Homo sapiens: one gene and its partner. The protein of the gene in region 1 binds, or shares a complex with, the protein of each later gene. Each region holds a gene or a part of one and is shown in the gene's direction. Other genes may lie near its edges.

Region 1 (8,549 bases):
TTCAGTTTTCATTAGATACCCTTTTTTCGTGAACTCTTGGAGCCATTTTGTCCATAATTTTATAATACGTATATATACATATATATTTTTTTTAATTTATTTTTTTGAGAGGAAGTTTCACTCTTGTTGCCCAGGATGGAGTGCAGTGGCACAATCTCAGCTCACTGCAACCTCCACCTCCCAGGTTCAAGCGATTCTCCTGTCTCAGCCTCCTGAGTAGTTGGGATTACAGGTGCATGCCACCACGTCCAGCTAATTTTTGTATTTTTAGTAGAGACCAGATTTCATCATATTGGTCAGGATGGTCTCGAACTTCTAACCTCAGGTGATCCACCCGCCTCAGCCTCCCAAAGTGCTGGGATTACAGGCGTGAGCCACTGCACTCGGCCAGTTTTATATAATAATAAGTAATAATTTTGTAGGCCGGGCGCAGTGGCTCATGCCTGTAATCCAGCACTTTGGGAGGCCGAGGAGGGCGGATCACCTGAGGTCAGGAGTTCGAGACCATCCTGACCAACATGGTAAAACCCCATCTCTACTAAAAATACAAAAATTAGCCAGCGTCGTGGTGGGCGCCTGTAATCCCAACTACTCGGGAGGCTGAGGCAGGAGAATCGCTTGAACCCAGGAGGCGAAGGTTGCAGTGAGTCGAGATCATGCCATTGCACTCCAGCCTGGGTGACAGAGTGAGACTCCGCCTCAAAACAAACAAACAAACAAAAAAAAACGAAAAAAAAGGTCGGGCTTGGTGGCTCATGCCTGTAATCTCAGCACTTTGGAAGGCCGAGGCGGGCGGATCACGAGGTCAGGAGATCAAGACCATCCTAGCTAACACGGTGAAACCCTGTCTCTACTAAAAATACAAAAAAAATTAGCCGGGCGTGGTGGTGGGCGTCTGTAGTCCCAGCTACTTGGAAGGCTGAGGCAGGAGAATGGCGTGAAGCCGGGAGGCGGAGCTTGCAGTGAGCCGAGATTGCGCCACTGCACTCTAGCCTGGGAGACAGAGCGAGACTCCGTCTCAAAAAAAAAAAGTAATAATTTTGTAAAGCACCTTACAGTTTACAAAGAGATTTAACAACCTCTTCCAATTCTCTCAACTTCCCTGTGTGGTCTATGTTGTCCCTGTTTAGTAAATGAGGAAATGGAGGTTCAAGAGACAGTAACTTGCCTAAGCAACAGAGCTTGAGCTGCTGTAGGTCTTCTGATACTCTGTCTCCTTTGATAATCTTGTTTGCCTAGTTAGATTGTAAATTTCTTGAAGCCTGAATCTAACCAGTTATTTCTTTTTATTCTTTATAGCACCTAGCTCCATGCTGCGCAGGAAATATAAATATTCAAACTAGATTGACTGGACTGGCCGTGGTCAAAAATAACTTGCCCTTTCTCCCTTCTGCCCTCTAGCGCCCTCACAAAGCCAATGCTGAGGAGATGACCAAGTACCACAGCGATGACTACATTAAATTCTTGCGCTCCATCCGTCCAGATAACATGTCGGAGTACAGCAAGCAGATGCAGAGATGTAAGTCCATTCTGTTCCCTCACACTCTGAAGCCGCCAGTTGCATCTCCCTTTCCACTGTAGAGGCCCATTCTGCCGTCCTCGCACCTCCCATTCAGTGGACACCTGATTTCCCCTACCTCCTAAAGGTGCCAGAGTGCTTTTTCCCCTCAAGTCGGATTTTTCATGTTTCCTGATTTGTAAACGATAGAGGTAGTACTTTTTCTGGTTATGTTCACAACACTGTCCCAAGAGTACTGTAATTATTGTAGTGGAAAAAGCACTGACCTGGGACGGGGAGACAATAGATACAGTAAAATTTAACTCTAACTCTCAGCTGAGTGGGCAAGTCACTTCCCCTCAGATTCTTCTTTTGTAAAGTGGGCTGGGCCACATGATCTCTGATTTCTGTCCAACTGTAACTGTTTTGACTTAGTGGGTATTAATTGAGAATTTAGAGGCCACTCAGGACAGATTCTAGATGGTGTAATCTTTGAGATGAGGTGATGCTGCCCCTGATCCCTTGGACTTGAACTTCAGAGCAGGTCCCATCTTGGAAGCCACGCTTAGTTTGTAGGAATCGTGGGAATTATTTTAGCTGTGAGGGGGAAAAAAAAAGTATTCAAATTTGGGACAAAACTATCATACCTGACTTCCCCCTTGTGTTATTTTAGAAATTATCTCTTAGCACCTAAGACTTCATATAGTATAACAGCACTGTCCAGAAGAAGTTTTGATTAACTTATGACAGCTTATATGGAAGTGTCAGAAAATATGCGGCACTTGTTTGTTGCTGCTGACCACAAGGTAGTCTTACTCCCAAGGAAGAAAGTTATTTATAACTATTATTACAACTAATAATAACTGTACAGTGGTATTGATGGCAGAACCACAGAGACCTTCCTTGAAGCATTAAGCTTCTTTGCTACCGACAACTCCAGGAGCTGCCAGCTGCTGTGAGTGAGGTGTTTGCTCTCTGAATTGCAGGGTCTTATTTCCCTCCAAGATGAGGCAAATTCATGCCTTTCCTGTAGATGGCTTTAGAGGTTTCCATAACCCATTTAGGCCAAGGATCAGGCTCTACTCTCAGCACAGTGGGCTCTCACTAGAGGAGCAACTTGCTATTAAAGTAAGAAAATAAGCTTTCATGTCTTAGTTTGAATCCTTGGTTTCCTAGCCCCTCTGGTGTTATTTCCCGCCCCTGCCACTTTTTTTTGAGACAGAGTTTCGCTCTTGTTGCCCAGGCTGGAGTGCAATGGGGCGATCTCTACTCACCACAACCTCCGTCTCCCGGCTTCAAGCGATTATCCTGCCTCAGCCTCCTGAGTAGCTGGGATTACAGGGATGTGCCACCACGCCCGGCTAATTTTGTATTTTTAGGTTTCTCCATGTTAGTCAGGCTGGTCTCAAACTCCCGACCTCAGGTGATATGCCAGCCTCGGCTTCCCCAAGTGCTGGGATTATAGGCCTGAGCCACTGTGCCCGACCTGTTTTCCCTCTTTAAGAGGAAGACAGGACAGGCACAGCGGTTCATGCCTGTAATCCTAGCACTTTGGGAGCCCAAGGTGGGAGGATTGCTTGAGCCCAGCCAGGAGTTTGAGACCAGCCTGGGCAACATAGTGAGACCCTCATCTCTACAAAAAAATAAAAAAATTAGCTGGGCATGGCGGTGCACACCTGTGGTCCCAGCTACTCAGGAGGTTGAGGAGGGAGGATCTTTTGAGCCTGGAAGGTCGAGGCTGCAGTGAGCCATGATTGTACTACTGCACTCCAGCCTGGGCAACAGAGCGAGACCAAAAAAAAAAAGACATTAGTGCCTATTTCATAGTCAAGGATGGGGGAATAAGTGAAGATAATATATTTAAATATATATAATATGTCTACCCTCAATGAATTGCTTTTGCTATTTTTGCTATTGCATAATCACTTTTGCTATTATGACTTACTATTTTTATTATTTACAAACTTATCAAGGCAGACAAAATGCTATGCCCTGAGGAGTGTGCAGGTTCTGCTCTGGTGCGCCAATTTTTCCGAATCCAGCATTCTAAAGTTGTACATTAAAAAATTCAGTCTGGCTGGGTGTGGTGGCTTACGCCTGTAATCCCAGCAGTTTGGGAGGCTGAGGCAAGCAGATCACCTGGGGTCGGGAGTTTGAGACCAGCCTGGCCAACATAGTGAAACCCCATCTCTACTAAAAATACAAAAATTAGCTTGGTTTGGTGGTACATGCCTGTAATTCCAGCTACTCAGGAGGCTGAGGCAGGAGAATTGCTTGAACCCAGGAGGCAGAGGTTGCAGTGAGCCAAGATCGCGCCACTGCACTCCAGCCTGGGCGACAGAGCGAGACTCCGTCTCAAAAAAAAAAAATTCAGTCTGGGTGCCTATAGTCTCAGCTACTTAGGAGGCTGAAGCAGGAAGATTTCTTGAGCCCAGGAGTTCAAGGCCAGTCTGGGTAATATAGTGAGACCTGGTCTCTAAAAAAAATTTTTCTAATTAAAATAATTAGGTCTTGGATTTTTCTGTCATCAGAAATGGGGGCAGGAAGAATAAGCCTCTCTAAGAACTTCAGAGTACCTCACTGAGTTGATTTGTAGGGTTATGGAGGGTCAGAGTAGACAGAGACTTTAGATGTCACTTAACACAGTGCTTTATAACCTGGGGTATCTACCAAGACAGTAATGAGCCCTTTTTAAAAAAAGAATTATTTTTATTTTTATTCTTGTTTTTAGAGATGGGGTCTTGCTTTGTCATCCAGGGTACAGTACAGTGGCAAGATCATAGCTCACTGCAGCCTCAAATTCCTTAATCCTTAACTTGCCCTTTTAGAATATGTACCAATATCTAACCTAGGCGCTGGACATGGTAGCATGCACCTGTAATGCCAGTGCTTTGAAGGGCAAGGCAGGAGGGATAGCTTGAGGCCAGGAGTTCAAGACCAGCCTGGGCAGCATAGTGAGACCCCCATCTCTTATTTTATCTTAAAAAAATAAAAATAAAAAATTAGTTGTGTATGGTGGCACATGCCTGTGATTCTGGCTACTCAGGAGCCTGAGGCAGGAGGATCCCTTGAGCCCAGTTCAGGGCTGCATTGAGGTATGGTCTCATTTCGCCACCACACTCCAGCCTGGGCAACATAGCAAGAACTCGTCTCAATAAAAAAAAAACACACATGGCCAGGCGTGGTGGCTCATGCCTGTAATCCCAGCACTTTGGGAGGCCGAGGTGGGCGGATCACGAGGTCAGTACATCGAGACACCATCCTGGCTAACACGGTGAAACCCCGTCTCCACTAAAAATTTACAAAAAATTAGCCGGACGTGGTGGCAGGCGCTTGTGGTCCCAGCTACTCGGGAGGCTGAGGCACCAGAATGGTGTGAACCCGACAGGCGGAGCTTGCAGTGAGCCGAGATCACGCCACTGTACTCCAGCTTGGGCGACAGAGCGAGACTCCTTCTCAAAAAGAAAAAAAAAAAAACCCACACACACACAAAAACATCCCACACACCTAATCTAGGAAGTTATGCTTATGATAAGATCGAGTAAATCAGGTTTCCTTGCTTGTGGCTGAAATGTAATAAACCCTTTCTGGTCACTTTGAGAGCCTTGACCAGAAGTTCTGACCTAATATTTAGCAAGTGAAAATGGGAACACAAATAAATGCATTTAGGGGGCTTTTGGTGAAAACATGATAAAAGGGATTGGTAAAAAATTGGGAGACATTCTCATCCATTTTACAGACATGTAAACTTTCCCAGTCACACAGCAAGGTGATGGTAGAATGCAGAATGGAACTCTAGTCCCCCAATTCTGTAGTTTTAAAAAATATAGTGTATATAAAATATTTTAGATACACAGGCCAGGCAGGGTAGCTCATGCCTGTAATCCCAGCACTTTGGGAGGCTGAGGCAGGTGGATCACTTGAGGCCAGGAGTTTGAGACCAGCCTGGCCAGCGTGGTGAAACCCTGTCTCCACCAAAAGTACAAAAATTAGCCATGTGTGGTGGTATATGCCTGTAATCCCAGCTACTCGGGAGGCTGAGGCATGAGAATTGTTTGAACCTGGAGGGCAGAGGTTGCAGTGAGCCAAGATCGCGCCACTGCACTCCAGCCTGGGCGACAGAGCAAGACTCCATCTCAAAAAAAAAAAAAAAAAAAAAAAACAGAAAAAGAAAAAAACATATTTTAGACACACACAAAAAGCATCAAAAAATAATATAATGCACTTTGGGAGGCCGAGGCGGGCAGATCACGAGGTCAGGAGATCAAGACCATCCTGGCTAACACAGTGAAACCCCATCTCTACTAAAAATACAAAAAATTAGCCGGGTGTGGTGGTGGGTGCCTGTAGTCCCAGCTACTTGGGAGGCTGAGGCAGGAGAATGGTGTGAACCCAGGAGGCGGAGCTTGCAGTGAGCTGACATTGCGCCACTGCACTCCAGGCTGGGCAACAGAGCAAGACTCTGTCTCAAAAAAAAAAAAATAATAATAATAATATAATGAACATCCATGTGTGCCCAATACCCAGCCTGAGAAAGAAAACATTATCAATACAGTTGATGCCCCCTTGGGCATCTTTCCTTGATCACATACCCTTTCTCTCCCACTCCCCCAGCCCCCCACCCCATTACCAGCACTGCCAAGGTATAAGCACTATCCTGAGGTTAGTGTTTAATCTTCCCATCTCTTTGCAATGAGCATTTGACTGCCTTCTCTGCCTACGTCTGCTTCCACCTCTCACCCAGTATTGCTTCCCTTTAGTCTAAAGCTAGTGTGAGAATGAGAAAAGCGTTTATAGCAGAAAGAGAGAAAACCCATGGAAAAGTCTTCCCTACCCTCACAGATTAGCTCACATGAGTATCTGCTCTTCCATTTGCCCCCTTTCCATCTCTAATCACATAGCTTATTGACTAGGAATAAAAGGGCTGGTCATTTGAGCTACATGTTGGTTTGGTGCCTGAAGAAAAATATTTTTTTTTTTCTCACGTCCAAAACACCCATTCCTTCCCATGGAGGCTCCATATCCCAAATAAGAGTATAAACAAAGCTTTGGAAACGCAGGCAGGCCAAACTCTGTGCAGGAGGAAGTGGCCAGAGAGGGAAATCAGTTGCCAATGGATAAACAGCCGGGGCCCAGGGACCAAAGTTCTTATTTACACAGCCTCCCAGTGTTTACCCAGGAAGTGAGGAAGAGACCCACCCGCTGCACACTCCCTCATGCAGCCATGCTTCTTCCTCAGAGCACCGGATCTTGGCACCCTCCAAGTTTAGTGCAGAACCAGAGCTGGTAACTCTTGTGGTTATTGTAGATCTTGAGCTTCAACTGTGTCTTGAGATTTTACCAGCACAATCCAAACTGAGCTCTTCTGCTCTCACCCCAGGGCTGCTCCTTCCTCTACTTTTGGAAATCTTGATAACAGTGGGTACAGTAGAAGGCTGGGCAAGAGAATAAGTATGCAGCCCCACACCTCCTGCCTCTGACTTCCTGTAGCTCATTGATGTCTCAGCAGTTACTTTTTTTTTTTTTTTCTCCTGAGATGGAGTCTCGCCCTGTCACCCAGGCTGGAATGCAGGGGTGCAATCTTGGCTCACTGCAACCTCCACGTTTTGGGTTCAAGTGATTCTCCTGCCTCAGCCTCCTGAGTAGCTGGGATTACAGGCACATGCCTGGCTAATTTTTGTATTTTTAGTAGAGACGGGGTTTCTCCATGTTGGCCAGGCTAGTCTTGAACTCGTGACCTCAAGTGATCCACCTGCCTTGGCCTCCCAAAGTGCTGGGATTACAGGTGTGAGCCACCGCGCCCGGCCAGTAGTTACCTTTTCTGTAAGAGGAGATTTGGAGCTATAAAGTTCCTCTAGGTCTGTGAGTCTACAGCCTCCAGGTGTGCTTTCCTTCCTGTTTTCATTTCATTTGCCTTATTGTTTGCATATGTTTCCACATTATGTACTACTTGGTACTTTTACCCCATTAGGCCCGAAATAACTTTACTCCACTTGTCACTGTGAATGTAGCAGTAAGACACTGGGCTACGGGAGTCAAGACACCGGGACCCTGATTCTGGTTCTGCTACTGCCTGGTTTTATAACCTTGGGCAAATCACTTAACTTCTCGGTATCTGTTTGTTCCTCCGCACAGTGGGGTTGATATCTGGCTTGTCCAGCTCATAGAGTTGTTGTGAGGATCAAATGAGGTTGTATATGTGAAAGGACTTGGAAAAGGGCCGGGATATATTTTCACAGGCTTTTAAGACAGACAGGCTGGCTGGGCACGGTGGCTTATGCCTGTAATCCCAGCACTTTGGGAGGCCGAGGCGGGCGGATCACAGGGTCAGGAGTTTGAGACCAGCCTGGCCAACATGGTGAAACCCCGTCTCTACTAAGAATGCGGAAATCAGCCAGGTGTGGTGGCAGGTACCTGTAATCCCAGCTACTCGGGAGGCTGAGGCAGGAGAATGGCTTGAAACTGGAGGGCAGAGATTACAGTGAGCCAAGATCACTTCACTATACTCCAGCCTGGGCAACAAGAGCAAAACTCCGTCTCAAAAAAAAAACAGACAAACCAAAGCTTGAGGCTTGCATACTGCTTCTGCCATTTACTAACAGCTCACCTCTCTGAACCTGTTTCCCTACTTATTTATTTATTTATTTTTTTGAGACAGGGTCTCACTCTTGTCTCGCCCAGGCTGGAGTGCAGTTGCGCGATCTCAGCTCACTGCAACCTCTGCCTCCCGGGTTCAAGTGGTTCTTGTGCCTCAGCCTCCCAAGTAGCCGGGATTACAGGCAGCTGCCACCACACCTGGCTAATTTTTATGTTTTTGGTAGAGATGGGGTTTCTCCATGTTGCCCAGGCTGGTCTTGAACTCCTGGCCTCAAGTGGTCCTCCTGCCTTAGCCTCCCGAAGTGCTGGGATTACAGGTGTGAGCCACTGTGCCAGGCCTTGTTTCCCTACTTATAAGATGGGACCAAATCTTACCTCAGAAGCTTGTGTGAAGATGAATGATCTCGGGTATTTAACGCATGTAGCGCAGTGTCTGGCGTGTTGTACGTGCGCA
Region 2 (8,549 bases), on another chromosome or scaffold:
AAAGGCTCTTCTTTCTGTCAGTTATTAATGTTTAGAGAAATGAAAAAATAGTAAAAATATTTAGTATACTATAATTTAAAACTTACGAAATATTGAGAATTATTTTCTTTTTTAAAAACTTAGCAAGAATAGTTTAAACTGTGCTTGCCACCTTCCTCTCATATAATTTATAACTAAGTGAGCATCTTTTCTGTACCTTGACAGATTGTCATGTTTCTAAATTTGGATCCGCTTTACATTTGTATATTCATTACATTCTTATTGAGCATCCACCATAGCTGTTCCAGTACTGTGCTAAGAAAAGATCATTTCAATGGATTTGCAGCTAACTTTATGGCTTCAACTCGAGTCTTGCCTTGAAATGTCACCTTTAAACATGCCTAGTCAGATTCAAGGGCTTGCGTGGATTTCTTAGATATAAGGCATTCACATGGACTCTTGTAAAAGAGTAATGGAAACAACTATAGAAATTTGCACTTGTTTACTGAAGACAGGAGAAGTAAAAGCTGCTTTCATAAGCCCAAGAATTACGGAGATTTTTATTAAACTATAACTATTTTCCCAATCACCTCACTAATACAGAGAGCTTCTAAATCATTGCCAGGGGTCATTTTCATACCTTTTGAACATGTTTTGAAAATAGATTACAGGGCCAGGCGCAGTGGCTCACGCCTGTAATCCCAGCACTTTGGGAGGCCGAGGCGGGCAGATCACGAGGTCAGGAGATCGAGACCATCCTGGCTAACACGGTGAAACCCCATCTCTACTAAAAATACAAAAAATTAGCCGGGCATGGTGGCGGTTGCCTGTAGTTCCAGCTACTCAGGAGGCTGAGGCAGGAGAATGGCGTGAACCTGGGAGGCGGAGCTTGCAGTGAGCTGAGATCATACCACTGCACTCCAGCCTGGGCAACAGAGCGAGACTCCATCTCAAAAAAAAAAAAAAAAAGAAAAGAAAATAGATTACATGACTATCTAATTATCTAGTGAATGTAAAAATAAATAATGAAGGCCGGGCACGGTGGCTGAAGCTTGTAATCCCAAATGAGGCAGGTGGATCACCTGAGGTCAGGAGTTCAAGACCAGCCTGGCCAACATGGCAAAACCCTGTCTCTACTAAAAATAGAAAAATTAGCCAGGCATGGTGGCACATGCCTGTAGTCCCAGCTACTTGGGAGGCTGAGGCAGGAGAATCGCTTGAACCCAAGAGGCAGAGGTCACAGTAGGCCAAAATCGTGCCACTGCACTCCAGCCTGGGTGACAGAGCAAGACTCCATCTCATAAATAAATAAATACTTTTGTTTTAAAAGCATATTATTGACCTACCTGTAAGGAATAATTGGTTGAGGGAAGAATTGTGAAAAAAGATGTAGAAAAGATGTAGGGTTGTAAGGGGCTAGAAAAACCCGTGCAGCTGGTAGAGAGGGAATGGAAAGCAGATCCTGTGAAAGGATAGCACAGGAAGAGAGGCAAAATCCATAATCCTTACTTTATTTTTGATCAACACAGTACTGCCAACCCTCAGATTAAGGCAAGGTAAGCAGATTTATATCATCTTTACTCATATCTTCTGATAGATTTACTAAAGATGATTCCATATCTACTAAATTAGAAAGCCAGAGCTACCGCCTTAAACTGCTTGGAGTGCAAATATTCACAAAGAGGCAAAACTGTGACCCAAATTCCTGATTTTTGCTTTTGCTTCCCTTCTTCTCAGGTGCTCTCTACTAGGTAAGATTGGGAGATATTGGACTACTACTAAAATTTAGTGCTCACTTCATTCTACCTCTCAACCTCTACTTTGTCCTTAATGTTTTGCTCCTTTAATGTAGGCAGAGGTTCAAGAAACCAGGAAGATGAGTGATCATAATTTTCACGTTTTATCGTAGTGACTTATTTCATGCCTCTTTCTCCCAGTAGACTACATATTCCATGAGGGCAAAGGCCATGTTATTCATATCTAGCTAGTGCCCAGCATAAGTAACTCACTATCTGTTGAGTGAATGAGTAAACCTAATTTATTATTTTGGAATACATTTCTGTTTTAAATTTATTATTTTTTTTTAGATATGCAACCATTGTCTCCAATTTCTGTCCATGAACGCTACAGTTCTCCTACCGCAGGGAGTGCTAAGAGAAGACTCTTTGGAGAGGACCCCCCAAAGGAAATGCTTATGGACAAGATCATAACAGAAGGAACAAAATTGAAAATCGCTCCTTCTTCAAGCATTACTGCTGAAAATGTATCAATTTTACCTGGTCAAACTCTTCTAACAATGGCCACAGCCCCAGTAACAGGAACAACAGGACATAAAGTTACAATTCCATTACATGGTAACGTTATAGTGCATTTGTTTTGTACTTTTTCTGAGATAAAAATTTAAGAAATGTCTTAGTGGATTAGATCACATGGTTTTTCTAACTCATTATTTTTTCTTGAACCTATACTTTTTTTTTTTAAATAGATTTGAATTTTTTAGAGCAGTTGTAGATTCACAGCAAAATTCAGAGGAAGGTACAGACATTTCTCATAGTCCCCCTTCCCCAACCAGAGGCATATAAAGCCTCCCTCATTATCAGTATTCCACACCAGAATGCTACATTTGTTACAGTTGATGAACCTACATTACTGACACATTACCCAATGCCCATAGTTTACATTAGGGTTCACTCTTGGTGAATAGTTTATTGATTTTGAGAACGTATAATGACATGTATCTGTCACTATAGCTCCATACAGAGTAGTTTCACTGCCCTATAAATCCTCTGTGCCCCACCTTTTTGTTTTGAACCTATAGTGGTTTTTTTTTTATTTTTAAATTTTATAAATTTACTACCCTCTCTGTTTGTTTAGACTTATTTTACTTTTTCTTTTCTTCTTTTTTTATTTTTTGAGACAGGATCTCACTCTGTCACCCACATTGGAGTACAGCAGCATGATCTCATCTCACTGCAACCTCTGCTCCCAGGCTCAAGTGATCGTCCCACCTCAGCCTCCTGAGTAGCTGGGACCACAGGCAAGTGCCACCACTCCCAGCTAATTTTTTCTATTTGTGGTACAGATGAGGTTTTACCATGTTGCCCAGGTCTCAAACTACTTTTAAAATGTTCTTATCTGAGCTTTCCAATATGTATGTATTGAGCAAAAATTCTGTTTTTTGACTAACAGCTCAAGTGCTCAAAATGTTAAAAAAAAAAATGCTTTTTTTTCCAATAAATTTAAACTATAAATGTATCCCAGGCAAATACAAAATAGAGAACAAAATTTGCTTTTTTTTCCATAAATTTAAAGTATAAAAACAAAACCGAATATTCTTGTTTCTAGAAAATAAGGATTTATGCGGGGCATGGTAGCTTTCACCTGTAATCCCAGCACTTTGGGAGACCAAGGCAAGAGGATCACTTTAGCCCAGGAGTTTGAGACCCAGACTGGGCAACATAGCAATATCCTATCTCTACAAAAAATTAAATTAGCTGGGCATGGTGATGTATGCCTATGGTCCCAGCTACTTAGGAGGCTGAGGCAGGAGAATCACTTGAGCCCAGGAATTTGAGGCTACAGTGAGCCATGATCACGCTACTGTACTCCAGCCAGGACAACAGAGCAAGACATTGTCAAAAAAAAAAAGAAAAAGAAAAAAAAAAGGGGGCCCGGGGGGCGCCAGGCACAGTGGCTCACACCTATAATCCCAGCACTTTGGGAGGCTGAGGCAGGTGGATCACTTGAGGTCAGGAGTTTGAGACCAGCCTGGCCAACGTGGTGAAACCCCGTCTCTACTAAAAATAGAGAAAAAACATTAGCCGGGTGTGGTGGCGCATGCCTGTAGTCCCAACTATTCAGGAGGCTGAGGCAGGAGAATTGCTTGAACCTGGGAGGCAGAGGTCTCAGTGAGCCAAGATGAGGCCACTGCACTCCCACCTGGGTGACAGAGTGAGACTGTCTCAAAAAAAAAAAAAAAAAGTCCAGCTGCAGTGGCTCATGCCTGTAATCCTAGCATTTTGGGAGGCCAAGGCAGGCAGATGGCTTGAGCTGACGAGTTCGAGACTAACCTGGGCAACATGGCAAAACTCCCATCTCTAAAAAAAAAATACAAGCCGGGCACAGTAGCTCACTCCTGTAATCCCAGCACTTTGGGAGGCCGAGGAGGGCAGATCATGAGGTCAGGAGATCGAGACCATCCTGGCTAACATGGTGAAACCCTGTGTCTACTAAAAATATTTTAAAAATTAGCCGGGTGTGGTAGCATGTGCCTGTAGTTCCAGCTACTCAGGAGGCTAAGGCAGGAGAATTGAACCCGGGAGGCAGAGGTTGCAGTGAGCCGAGATCACGCCACTGCACTCCAGCCTGGGCGACAGAGCAAGACTCCATCTCAAAAAAAAAAAAAAAAAATTTACCAGGCATAGTGGCTTGCACCTGTAGTCTCAGCTATTTGCGGGGGTTGAAATGGGAGGATCACTTGAGCCCAGGAGGTCGAGGCCACAGTGAGCTGAGATGGCGCCACTGCACTCCAGCCTGAGTGACCAAGTGAGACCCTGTCTCAAAAAAAAAAAAAAAAAGAATTCAGTCATAACCTAGAATTACTATTTTGTAGCCTTCTTATACACACAGATATATGTATATATAATTGTCAAAATATATATAGTTGACAACTTTCCTAGAACATATGCAGATTATTTCTAATAATGCTTATACATTCAGGTGTCGCAAATGATGCTGGAGAGATCACACTGATACCTCTTTCCATGAATACAAATCAGGAGTCCAAAGTCAAGAGTCCTGTATCACTTACTGCTCATTCATTAATTGGTGCTTCTCCAAAACAGACCAATCTGACTAAAGCACAAGAGGTACATTCAACTGGAATAAACAGGCCAAAGAGAACTGGGTCCTTAGCACTATTTTACAGAAAGGTATGTGTTTTTATAGCACTTTAGAAGAATTTGTTTAATCAATGGAAGAAAGATTGAGTAACAGAGACAGACTTTGGTCTTTTTTTTTTCTAATATACATAACACAAAATTTACCATTTTAACCATTTTTAAGTGTACAGTTCAATGGTATTAAATACATTCACATTGTTGTGCAGCTTTATTACTACCGTCTATCTCCAGAACTTTTTCGTCTTCCCATTCTGAAATTCTGTATCCATTTCTCCCTTTCCCCAGCTTCTGGCAACTACTATTCTACTTTCTGTTTCTGTGAATTTGACTACTCTAGGTTCTTCCTATGAGTGAAGTCATACGATATTTGTTTGTTTTTGTGACTGGCTTAGCGTAATGTCTTCTAGGTTCATTCATATTATAGCTTGTGCCAGAATTTCCTTCCTTTTCAAGGCTGAATAATATTCCATTGTATGAAGAAGAGAAAAAAAGAACAAAAGAAAAAATATTCCATCATATGAATATACTTTTTTTTAATACCACATTTTGTTTATTCATTCATCTGCTGATGGGCATTTGGGTTGCTTCTACCTTTTGGCTATTGTGAGTTATGCTGCTATGAACATTTGTGTACAGGTGTCTGTTCAAACCAGGCGTGGTTGCTCATGCCTGTAAACCCAGCACTTTATGAGGCCGAGGCAGGAGGATCACTTGAACCCAGGGGTTTGAGACCACCCTGGGCGACACAGTGAGACCCTATCTCTATTTTAAAAAAAAAAAAAAAAAAAAGCAGCCAGGTATGGTGGCAGATGCCTATAGTCTTGGCTATTTTGGAGGCTGAGGTGGGAGGATCACATGAGCCCAGGAGGTTGAGGCTACAGTGAGTCGAGATCACACCACTGCGCTCCAGCCTGGGCAACAGAACGAGGCCCTGTCTTAAGAAGAAAAAAAAATAGCAACAAATATCTATTCAAGTCTCTGCTTTCAATTCCTTTGGGTATATTCCCAGAAATGGGAGAGTAATTTAGTATTTCATTTTCTGAGGAACCACCGTACCATTTTCCACAGTGGGTGGACCATTTTACATTACCACTAGCAAGGCACAAGTGTTCCAAGTTCTTCTCATCGTTGCCAACGTTTCGTGTTTTCTGGTTTGTTTGTTTTTTTGATAATGGCCATCCAATGGGTATAAAGAGACATCTTACTATAGTTTCAATTTTCATTTCCCTAATGATTAGTAATATTGAGTATCTTTTCATGTGCTTTTGCCCATCTATATATCTTCATTATAGAAATGTCTATTCGAGTCTTTTGCCCATTTTTTTAATTATGAGTTTTGGGTTTTGTTTTTGTTAAATTGTAGGAGTTCTTTATGTATTCTAGATATTAATCTCCTATAAAATATACTATTTACAAGTATTTTCTCCCATTCTGTGGGTTGCCTTTTCATTCCGTTGATAGTGTTCTTGACACATGAAAGTTTTTAATCTTAATAAAGTCAATTTATTCTTTTCATTTTTTGTCTGTGCTTTTGGTGTCATACACAAGAAATCATTGCCAAATCCAGTATTATAAAACTTTTCCCCTATGTTTTCGTCTAAGAGTTTTATAGTTTTTAGCTCTTATATTTATTATGTCTATTTTTTTTTGAGACAGAGTCTCACTTTATCACCCAGGCTGGAGTGCAGTCACGCAGTCACAGCTCACTGCAGCCTCCGCCTCCCAGGTTCAGATGATCCTCCCACCTCGACCCTCTGAGCAGCTAGGACTACAGGCATGTGCCACCATGCCCAGCTAATTTTCGTTTTTTGGGTTTTTTGTTTTTGTTTTTTTTTTTTTTGAGACAGAGTCTCACTCTGTTGCCCAGGCTGGAGTGCAGTAGCGCAATCTCGGCTCACTGCAACCCCTGCCTCCCGGGTTCAAGCAATTCTCCTTTCTCAGCCTCCTGAGTAGCTGGGACTACAGGAATATGCCACCACGCCTGGCTAATTTTTGTATTTTTAGTAGAGACGAGGTTTCACCGTGCTGGTTTGGCTGGTTTCAAACTACTGACCTCAGGTGATCCACCCACCTTGGCCTCCCAAAGTGCTGGGATTACAGGTGTGAGCCACCACGCCGGGCCTGTTTTTGAACTTTTTTGTAGAGACGGGGTTTCACCATGTTGCCCAGGCTGGTCTCAACTCGTGAGCTTAAGTGATCTGCCCACCTCAGCCTCCCAAAGTGCTGGGATTACAGCCGTGAGCCACCACGCCCAGCCCATTTTAATTTTTGTATATGGTGTTAGATAAGGGTCTAAAGTCATTCTTTTGCACATGGATATCCATTTTTCCCAGCACGATTTGTTGAAAGACTGCCCTTTCCCATTGAATGAGCTTAGAATCCTTGTTGAAAAGTCACTTGAGCATAGATATGGGGGTTTAATTCTGGGCTCTCTATTCTATTCATTGGACTATATGTCTATCTGTATTCAGTACCACACTGTTTTGATAACCATAGCTTTGTGTCATAAGTTTTAAAATCAGGAGGTGTGAGACCTCCAACTTTGTTTTTCTTTCTTAAGATTGTTTTAGCTATTTAAGATTTCTTGAGAGTCTGTATGAGTTTTAGGATGGATTTTTCTCTTTCTGCAAAAACATTGTGGAATTTTGACAGAGATTGCATTGAATATGGAGATCGCATTGGCTAGTGTTGACATCTTAAGAATGTCAAGTCTTCCAGTCCATGATCATAGGATGTCTTTTCATTTGCGTCTTCTTTAATTTCTTTCAGCAACATTTTGTAGTTTTCTGTATATGTCTTTTGCAAGACAAGTCCTTGCTTAAGATTATTCCTAAGTATTCTTTTTGATGCTATTGTAAGTAATAAGTAAGTAGAATTGTCTTAATTTCATTTTTTAGATTGTTCATTAATGTAAAGGAACACAAGAGATGTTGTTGTATTGATTTTCTTGCAGCTTTGCTGATTTGTTTATTAATTCTATCAGTTTTTATGGATTCTTTAGGTTTTTTGAGTTTTCCATACACAAGATTATGTCATCTGTGAACAAAGATAATTTTACTTCTTTCTTTGCAATTTGGATTTCTTTTTCCTGCCTTATTGCTCTAGCTAGGAATTCCCGTTCTATGTTGAATAAAAGTGGTGAAAGCAAACATCCTTGTCTTACTCCTGATCTTAGAGGAACACCTTTCAGGTTTTCAATTTGAGTATGATGTTAACTGTGGGTTTTTTATATACAGTTGACCCTTGAACAACATGTTTTTGCACTGTACAAGTCCACTTATATACAGATTTTTTTCAGCCAACACAGAATGAAAATACAGTATTTGAGGGATGTGAAACCTGTGTATATAGAGGGCCATCTTTTTGTACATGGGGATTCTACAGGGCCAAATGCAGGACTTGAGTATGCATACATTCAGGTATATGCAGGGGCTCCTGGAAGAAATCTCCTGTGTATACCAAGGGATTACTGTATATCCTTTATTATGTTTAGGTAGTTTCCTTCTCTTCCTAGCTTTTTGAGTATTTTTATCATGAAAGGGTGTTAAATTTTGTCAAATGCTTTCCTGTATCACTTGAAATGATTATGTGGCCATTTTCCCTTTGTCCTTTTAATATGGTGTGTTATACTGAATGATTTCCTTGTTTTAAATTATCCTTACCTTCTAA

Evidence for each region.
Region 2: the proteins of HDAC1 (region 1) and RBL1 are in contact, whole or in part, in a crystal structure (PDB 7SME), measured with the Homo sapiens proteins. Residues at the interface, in NP_004955.2 of Homo sapiens: Ile414, Ala415, Cys416, Glu418, Glu419, Phe420, Ser421, Asp422; in NP_002886.2 of Homo sapiens: Tyr849, Ile850, Lys853, Val854, Thr860, Phe861, Gln862, Met865, Lys866, Tyr879, Arg880, Asp929, Leu930, Ile931, Tyr934, Asn935, Val939, Lys943, Leu947.

Annotation. Positions count from the first base shown.
Region 1 is NC_000001.11:32,315,264-32,323,812, forward strand, and holds part of HDAC1 (histone deacetylase 1), read left to right. Parts: intron 1-1,401; coding exon 1,402-1,519; intron 1,520-8,549. UniProt on the Homo sapiens protein: Histone deacetylase that catalyzes the deacetylation of lysine residues on the N-terminal part of the core histones (H2A, H2B, H3 and H4).
Region 2 is NC_000020.11:37,029,026-37,037,574, reverse strand, and holds part of RBL1 (retinoblastoma-like protein 1), read left to right. Parts: intron 1-2,066; coding exon 2,067-2,333; intron 2,334-4,698; coding exon 4,699-4,910; intron 4,911-8,549. UniProt on the Homo sapiens protein: Key regulator of entry into cell division. Directly involved in heterochromatin formation by maintaining overall chromatin structure and, in particular, that of constitutive heterochromatin by stabilizing histone methylation.